2 separate regions of the Homo sapiens genome follow, and region 2 is linked to region 1. The links come from fine-mapping of genetic effects on gene expression. A gene starts in region 1. The other region holds a variant in brackets. All regions are shown on one strand. Distances are from middle to middle.

Region 1 (4,257 bases):
ATCTATTGGCTCAGGTCTTGCTGTCATTCCACTGCCCCAACTCACAAGCTGCCTGGGCAGGAATTAAAAAGCAGCTTGGTTCTTAAGAGTCAACAAAGGCCCATCTAGAGCTCTTCCCTCTTCCTGCAAAGGAGCCAGCCTGGCTTTGTGCAGAGGCTCTCCTGGGAGGCAAAGGCATAGGTTGTAGCCCCAGCCCAGCTCCTGAAGTTCCATTGCAAGCCCATTCCCCCTCTAGACCCCAACCCTTCATCTATTTTGTTATCAGTGATGGGAGTGAAGGACTGATTGATCTCAGCTCCTTCATTATATAGTCTATGAATCATTCACAGTCATCATAACAGCTAATGTTCATTATGTGTCAGGTACACTTCTAAGTGCTTGACATATAATAGCTTGTTGAATCAAGTGTGTCTTTGGCCAGCTGCCTTGCTTCCCTTCCAGCCCCCAATATCCCTGCCTTTAGTCACTCCTCTAGAATCTGGAAGGCCCTCCATTCTGCTGCCTCTTCCTCTGGCTCACCACAGGAGGCCCAATCCCAGCATTCTAAAAGGGTGCTATTTGCACACCTCCTATAACAGATCGCTCACTACCTCCTCTGTCATTGGACAGCTCAGACTGTTACAAGTCCCATGCTTTGGGTTCATGGTCATTTTGAAATATGACCATGGCAGTGAGAGTAGATTTATCTTAGAACTGTGTGACCCAAGACCTGCACCTTACATGAGAATATCTGTAAATACATTAGGAAGCTGACACAAAATTGCTTTGAGAGATTCACAGAGGGATGCTTAAAGAAGAATAGACAGAAAGGAAGAGAAGGGGAAAAGAAAGAGATAGGGCCTCAATGATGCAGATAAAAGAGCACACTCCCATGGGGCAAAACCTAGTAACAAAGGGTCCTGGGAGGTAGAGTGGCAGCTTGGTTGAGAAGTCAGGCTGGGCTTTATTTTCCTGTTGGCTCAAGGTCCATAACAAAGCTGGGCATAGTGGCTCTTCCCTGTAATCCCAGCACTTTGGGAGGCCAAGGTGGGAGGATCATTGAGCTCAGGAGTTCGAGACCAGCCTGGGCAACATGGCAAAACCCTGCCTCTAAAAAAATTCAAAAATTAGCCAGTCATGGTAGTGCATGCCTGTAATCCCAGCTACTCAGGAGGCTGAAGCAGGAGGATCACTTGAGCCCAAGCAGAGGTTGCAGTGAGCAAAGCTGGTGCCACTGCACTCCAGCCTGGGGAACACAGTGAGACCTTGTCTCAGAAAAAAAAAAAGAAAAAAAATTCCAAAACAATATTTGGAGCAGGGACCTAGGTAGTAAGCCATCCTCTCCAGCCTGGGGCAGAGCATCCACCTATTGAGTAAAGGATGCCGCATCACCCTCGGCTCCCATAAACACTGCAGCCTCTGAGGTTTCCTGTTGCCTCTCCTCCCTACCCCACAGCAAGCTGTGGAATATGTGGTGAAATAAGCCACAGTCATGACTAGAGCTCCACCTGCTTTGGGGGAGCCCTCCTTCCTCTGAGCACCCCCAGAGCCCTCAAAGATGTTAACTGAATTTGATTGCCATGTGAGGGACATAGCAACTTTGAGAACCTGGAACATAGGTCCTGAATCTCTTGGGCTATTGCCACAGGCAACAGGGAAGGGAACAGGCCAGCAGGGCCTCTGAAGACTTGAAGCTTGGATCGGCCTCCACGGAAGGTAATGAGTGGGAGAAGTCAGGATACATCGGGGCCCTCAGGTTGGACCGCAGGATTCCAGAAGGGAATGAACACAGAAGCTTGATCTTCCGCCTCTCCGGCCTTCACCCAGATTGGGAAATCTAGCAAAGTCCTGAATGTTCACTAATATTCCCAATCTCCTTCCATCATACAGATGAAAAGACAGCCCCGACAAGACAGGGAACAAATGTTTGTCAGGTGGATGATGGGAAGCAAGTCCCTGGGGCTCTTTAACTAGCTTGGCTTACCAAATCCTCACGATAATCCTGAGACAGGCAGGGAAGGGATGTTCACCTCCATCACTCGGAGTCAGCGCCTGAATTAAATCCCAGTCCACACTCTCATCCTTTCTCATCGCAGCTGCAGACTTGGGAAGGGGATGTGGGGAGACTGGTTGAGGCATTAACCTATTTACAGTTGTTTTTCCCCAAGAAATGAACTTTTAAAAGTTTTAAAAATTTTGAAATACTGGGGATAATGTTGTACTCAAGGAGAAACTCTTATGGTGAAATTCTAGGCACTCAGACTTTTAAAGAAATTGTACAGAATTGGCCCCCGTTTTAGAAAAGACTAGCAGCATTTCCCCACATATAAAAGGCATTTTAAAATTCCTTCCTGGCCTGCAGAAGCTCTCAGTACATGTTAATTACACCTGTCGCGCCCGGCCTCCTACCTTCCCGGGCTTCTCCACCCTCCATTCGGAAAAGAAAGCGCCGGAGGAGCTAAGCCCCACCCGCTTGCCAGCAATCTCCCCTCTCCCCGCCTCTTCCCTGTCACGCCTGCGCAGTTCGCTCAGCTCGAGCCCCCTGCCCTCAGGCGGCCCTGGGTAGCCATCAGGGCGCAGGCGCAGCTCCGCCCCCTCACCCTCCTCTCTGATCGGGCCCACCCCCTGGATCTAGCACCGCCTCTTCCGCGTTCTCGGAGGAGCGATCTGCAGGTAGGGGTGCGCGCGACCGCTCCCCGGCGGGAGCCAGCGAAGGTAAAAGCGAGACCTGCGAGGTATTCCTCCGAGCTAAATGGGGCCGGGGTCTGTGAGTGAGCTCGTGTGCCCGGAAGGGGGCAGTCAGGGCCTTCACGGCTGCCCGAGGTCACGACGCGATTCAGCTGCGGAGGGACAGCCTAAGGGGACGCTTTTCAGGACTGTCCCGAGCTGTCTGCGACCTCTGTGCCTGGGGTCGGGGCGTGGCCGGTGTCCGAGATGGCGCTTACTCTGTGGCCCGTTTGAGACTCAGTCTCTCCCAGGGATCAGGACCGAGGCTATGGCTGGGCGCAGGGCTCAGGCAGTCCAGTATCATGAATAGTTTTTCACGTGAGGAATTTGTGAAATCTGTGTACTGCGTTATTTTTAAGTTAATTGTTTTCATTTATTTTCAGTATTTAAAGGCTCCTGCCTGTGTGGATGGCTGTCCACAGGGAAAGGTAATAAGAGTGTCAGGTGCACCCTGTCTTCTAGAGAGCTCCAAGCTCCCTGACAGTGGCAGATCAGAGGCAGGCAGGCTCACAGGAATGAAGTGTTGTTAGAAGTGCTCAACTTCAGGGTCAGGGAGTCCTGGGTTTAGATCTCATCTCTTCCACCTCTTAGCTGTGTGTCCTGGGGCAAGTCTGCTTCCCCTCCCAGAGCTTCACTTTCTTCCCTAGGAAATGGCCATAATAGGGTCATTGTGAAGGGTGAATAGGATTATATGGAAGTCACCTAGTATGGCGCCTGTCATGTAATGGGTGCTGAATACATGGTAGCTGTGATTTCTAGGAGCTTGGTCATTTTGGATTGGGGTACTTTAGAAAGGCTCTGAGAGAAGAGTTGTTGTGACCTGGGCCTTGAAGCCTCAGTGGGATTTACAGATGGAACTGACCCTGCAGAATGGGAAGGGCACCACTGCCCATGCGCCAGGCACATGCTGGACAGTAGGTGTAATGTCTCACTGGATCACCACCCATCAGCCAGGTGCTTTCAGCCCACTCTCCTTAGCTTCAGCCCTTCATTAGAGGGCTGGGCTGGAAGTGATGTGAAGAGGAAATCCAGGGTTGGGTTTTATATGGAACTGAGCCAGCTAGAGGCTTTGGTGCCCCCTCTGCCCATCTGCTCCCACCTCAACACTTCTCTCTCTGTAATCCAGAGAGTTGGTTAGGAGTCCTGTTACTCTGGTATTTTGCAGATGTTGACAGTTGTGGGGGATGGCAACTCAGATTGCATGAAGCGAAGCCATGGGAGAGGGAAGCTCTGTGAACAGGAGCTGTCAGAGCCCAGCACGTGCTTAGAAAGTGCATGTGGTCTCCTGTAATGTGGTCCCAGAGTAATTGAATTACTTAGTTCCTTTTGCATCCTCTTCATGGGTGCCCTTGTGCTCTTCCTGAGACACTACTCGGAAACCTTGGTGGGCATCATTGCCTACTATATAGAGCAGTGGTGTCCAATCTTTTGGCTTCCCTGGGCCACATTGGAAGAAGAAGAACCATCTTGGGCCACACATAAAATACACTAACATTAACAATAGCTGATGAGCTTTAAAAAAATTGCAAAAAAATCTCAGTGTTTTAAGAA
Region 2 (4,257 bases), 670 kb after region 1:
AATTTAGGAGTAGAAAATGTAAAACTTCTGGAAGAAAATGGAAAAAAAAAACAGCTTGGGTTAGGCAAGTAAGTTCTTAGATACCAAAAGCATGATCAATAAAAAATAAAAAATTATCAATTTTTGCATTTCAAACGACACCATCCAAATACATGGAAAGAACCACCATAGACAGGGAGAAAATAATTGCAAATCATATAGCTAATAAAGGGCTTGTATCTAGAACATACAAAGAACTCAAGGCTCAATATTTAAAAAAAAAACGAACAGATTTTTTAAATGAACAAAAATATTTGATCAGACATTCCACCAAAAAAGATATACAAATGGCTAACAATGAGATAAGATGCTCAGATCATTACCCATTAGGGAAATGTAAATTAAAACCACAGTGATATACTACACACCACTAGAATGGTTAAAATCAAGAAGAGAGAGTAATTAGTGCTGGTGAGAATGTTAAAAAATAAACTCTGTGAATGTGAAATGATGCAGTCCACTGCAGAAAACAGTTTGGTGTTTTTTAAAAAGGTAAACATAGTTTGGGCGCAGTGGCTGACACCTGTAATCTTGGCACTTTGGGAGGCCAAGACAGGAGAATCACTTGAGCCCAGGAGTTCAAGACCAGTGTAGGCAACATGGTGAGACCTCATCTCTACAAATAAAAAAATAATAATTAGCTGGGTATGGTGGTGTGCACCTGTGGTCCCAGTCACTTGGGAGGCTGAGGCAGGAGGATTCCCTGAGCCCAGGAGATTGAGGCTGCAATGAGCCATGATCACACCACCACACTCCAACCTGGATGACAGAGTGAGACTCCATCTCCAAGAAAAAAGAAAAGTAAACATAAACTTACCATACAACACAATTCTCTGACTCCCAAAAGAAATAAAAACATATGTCCACACAAAGATATGCATGGAAATGTACACAGCACCATTAATGTGATACTCCCAAACTGCAAACAATATAAATGTCCATCAACTGGTGAATGGACTAACAAAATATGGTCTATCCAATAATAAAACATTATTCAACAATAGAAAGGAATGAATATGCTACATGTATAAAGTTCAAAAACATTATGTTAAGTGAAAGAAACCAGAAACAAAAAACTACATTTAGCAGCACATAATACAGAACCAAAAAGCAGATGAGTTATTGCTTAGAGCTAGGAATTAGAAGAGTAGGATTAACTACAGGTGGGTACAAGTAAACTTTCTGAGTGACAGAAGTGTTCTAAATTTGGATTATGGTGACAATACATAATTATATAAATTTAGTAAAAACCATTGAATCCCTTACACTGAAGAGATTACAATAGGCAATTAAATTTAGTAAAAAACCATTGAATCGCTTACGTTGAATTGCTTACAATGGGTAATTTTTTTTTTTTTTTTTTTTTTTTTTTTTTTGAGATGGAGTTTCACTCTGTCTCCCAGGCTGGAGTACAGTGGTGTGATCTCGGCTCACTGCAACCTCCACCTCCCGGGTTCAAGTGATTTTCCTGACTCAGCCTCCCAAGTAGCTGGGATTACAGGCACGCGACACTACACCCGGCTAATTTTTTTGTATTTTTAGTAGAGACGGGGCTTCACCACGTTGGCCAGGCTGGTCTCGAACCCCTGACCTGAGGTGATCCACCTGCCTCGGCCTCCCAAAGTGCTAGGATTACAGGCGTAAGCCACCGTACCCAACCACAATGGGCATATTTTATACTTTGTAAATTTTGTCTCAGCCAGGCATGGTGGCACACTCCTGTAGTCCTTGCTACTTGGGAAGCTGAGGTGGGAGGAT[C/T]GCTTGGGCCCAGGAGTTTGAGATCAGCCTGAGCAACAGAGAGATCCCATTTCTAGAAAAAAAAAGTAATGAACAAGCAAGTAAATAAATAAAATTTTAAAATGAAAATAAAAGTGACTGTAATTAAAAAAAAAAGCTGCCCATGGTGGTGCATGCCTTTAGTCTCAGCTACTCAGGAGGCTGAAGTGGAAGGATCACTTGAGCCCAGGGGTTTAGGATCACCCTGGGCAACGTAGTGAGATCTCATTTCTAGAAAGAAAATAAATAAACAAACAAATAATATTAGAATAAATAAAAACAAAAGTGACTGGAGAAAAAAAAAAAAAAGCCCAGGCATGGTGGTATAATGCCTTTAGATCCAGCTACTCAGGAGGCCAGGTGGAAGGACTGCTTGAGCCTAGGAGTTTGAGGCCAGCCTGGACAACAAAGAGAGGACTCATCTCTAAAAAATAAAGAAACTTAAAAAAACTCAAGTCAGATGTTTCAAAATGTGCAGGCCCCTGAGACTGAATCTGAGGTACTTAGGGGGCTTTAGAATCCTCCTTCCTCTCCTTCTTTCCTGAATAATTCAGTCTAGAGGCCACAAGATGATGATGATGATGGTGGCCATGTGGCTGGGTTGGGGTTGAGGTACCTGGCCTGGGATGTCAGAGACTGATGGGGATAAGGAAGTTGTCTGCTTGAAGAGAACAGTGGTGCCAGTCTTTCATGGGGTATTGGAGACCCAGTGAAGTGAGAAGGGCATACACACAGAAGGCTGGTGGTTACAAAAGGAGATTAGTTACACAGAGGAAAAAATGATCAGACAATCAAGTACCTCAACAAACTAAGCATCAAAGGAACATACCTCAAAATAATAAGAGCCGTCTATGACAAACCTGCAGGTAACATCATGCTGGGCAAAAAACACGGTCCCCTTGAGAACTGGAACAAAACAAGAATGCCCACTCTCACCACTCCTATTCCACATAGGAAGTCCTAGCCAGAGCAATTAGGCAAGAGAAAGAAACAAAAGGCAAACTCTCTCTCTTCACAGACAATTACCATTCTATATACCTAGAAAACCCCACAGCCTCTGCCCAAAGGTTCCTAGATCTGATAAACTTCAGCAAAGTTTCAGGATACAAAATCAACATACAAAAATCAGTAGTGATTCTACACTCCAATGACGTCCAAGCTGAGGGTCAAATCCAGAATGAAATCCCAATGACAATAACCACATAACGAATAAAATACCTAAGAATATGGCTAAAGAGGGAGGTGAAAGATCTCTACAACAAGAATTAAAAAACACTGCTGAAAGAAGTCAGAAATGACACAAACAAATGGGAAACTATGCCATGCTCACAGATAGGAAGAATTAATATTGTTAAAATGGCCATACAGCCCAAAGCAATTTACAGATTCAATGTTATTCCTCTCAAACTACCAACGACGTTTTTCACAGAGTTAGAGAAAACTATTCTAAAAATCATATGGGACCAAAAAAGAGCCCAAATAGCCAAGGCAATCTGAAGCAGAAGCAAAAAGAACAATTCCAGAGGCATTATACTACCTAATTTCAAACTATACCACAAGGCTACAGTAACCAAAACAGCATAGTACTGGTACAAAACCAGACAAACAGACCAATAGAAAAGGTTAGAGAATCCAGAAACAAAGCCACACATCTACAACCTTCTGATCTTTGACAAAGTGGACAAAAGCAATGCAAAAAGGAATCCCTATTCAATAAATGGTGCTGGGATAACTGGCTAGCCGTATGCAGAATGTTGAAACTAGACCCCTTCCTTTCACCATATACAAAAATCAACTCAAGATGATCAAAGGCTTACAGGTAAAACCTAAAACTATAACAACCCTAGTAGAAACCCTAAAATATACCACTCTGGACATAGGCCCTGGAAGACTTCATGATGAAGACACCAAAAGCAATTGCAACAGAAACAAAAATTGACAAATGGGACCTAATTAGACTAAAGAGCTTCTGCACAGCAAAATAAATTATCAACAGAGTAAACAGACAACCTAGAGAATGGGAGAAAATATTTGCAAAATATACATCTGACAAAGGTCTAATATCCAGAATCTACAAAAAACCTTAACTGAACAAGCAAAAAACAAATAACCCCATTAAAAAATAGGCAAAAGACATGAACAGACACTCCTCAGAAGACACACAAGCAGCCAACAAACACGACAACATGCTCCACATCGCTAATCATCTGAGAAATGCAAATCAAAACCACAAGGAGATACCATTTTACACTAACCAGAATGGTTATTAATAAAAAGCCAAAAAATAATGGATGCTGGCGAGACTGCAGACAAAAGGAAATTCTTGTACATTATTGGTGGAATTGTAAATTAGTTCAGCCTCTGTGGAAAGCAGTTTGGAGATTTCTCAAAGAACTAAAAGTAGAATTACCTTTCAACCCAGCAACCCCATCATTGGAAATA

Evidence for each region. PIP is the estimated chance that this variant, and not a neighbour inherited with it, causes the effect. A credible set is the group of variants that fine-mapping cannot tell apart.
Region 2: its variant is the best candidate, but not a certain one, in a credible set for the expression of MKNK1 in Th1/17 cells (Schmiedel 2018, PIP 0.84).

The regions. Positions count from the first base shown.
Region 1 is chr1:46,602,622-46,606,878 of GRCh38, reverse strand. It overlaps MKNK1 (MAPK interacting serine/threonine kinase 1), which reads left to right and starts at 2,611. Exons shown (of 13, transcript NM_001135553.4): 1 at 2,611-2,694. RefSeq lists a silencer at 2,430-2,649 and enhancers at 2,980-3,029, 2,797-3,297.
Region 2 is chr1:45,934,910-45,939,166 of GRCh38, reverse strand. The region is part of intron 4 of MAST2 (microtubule associated serine/threonine kinase 2); the gene reads right to left. Among named protein-coding and RNA genes, the nearest start is that of MAST2, 130 kb to the right of the region's middle. The variant C/T (reference allele first, on the strand shown) is at 1,798.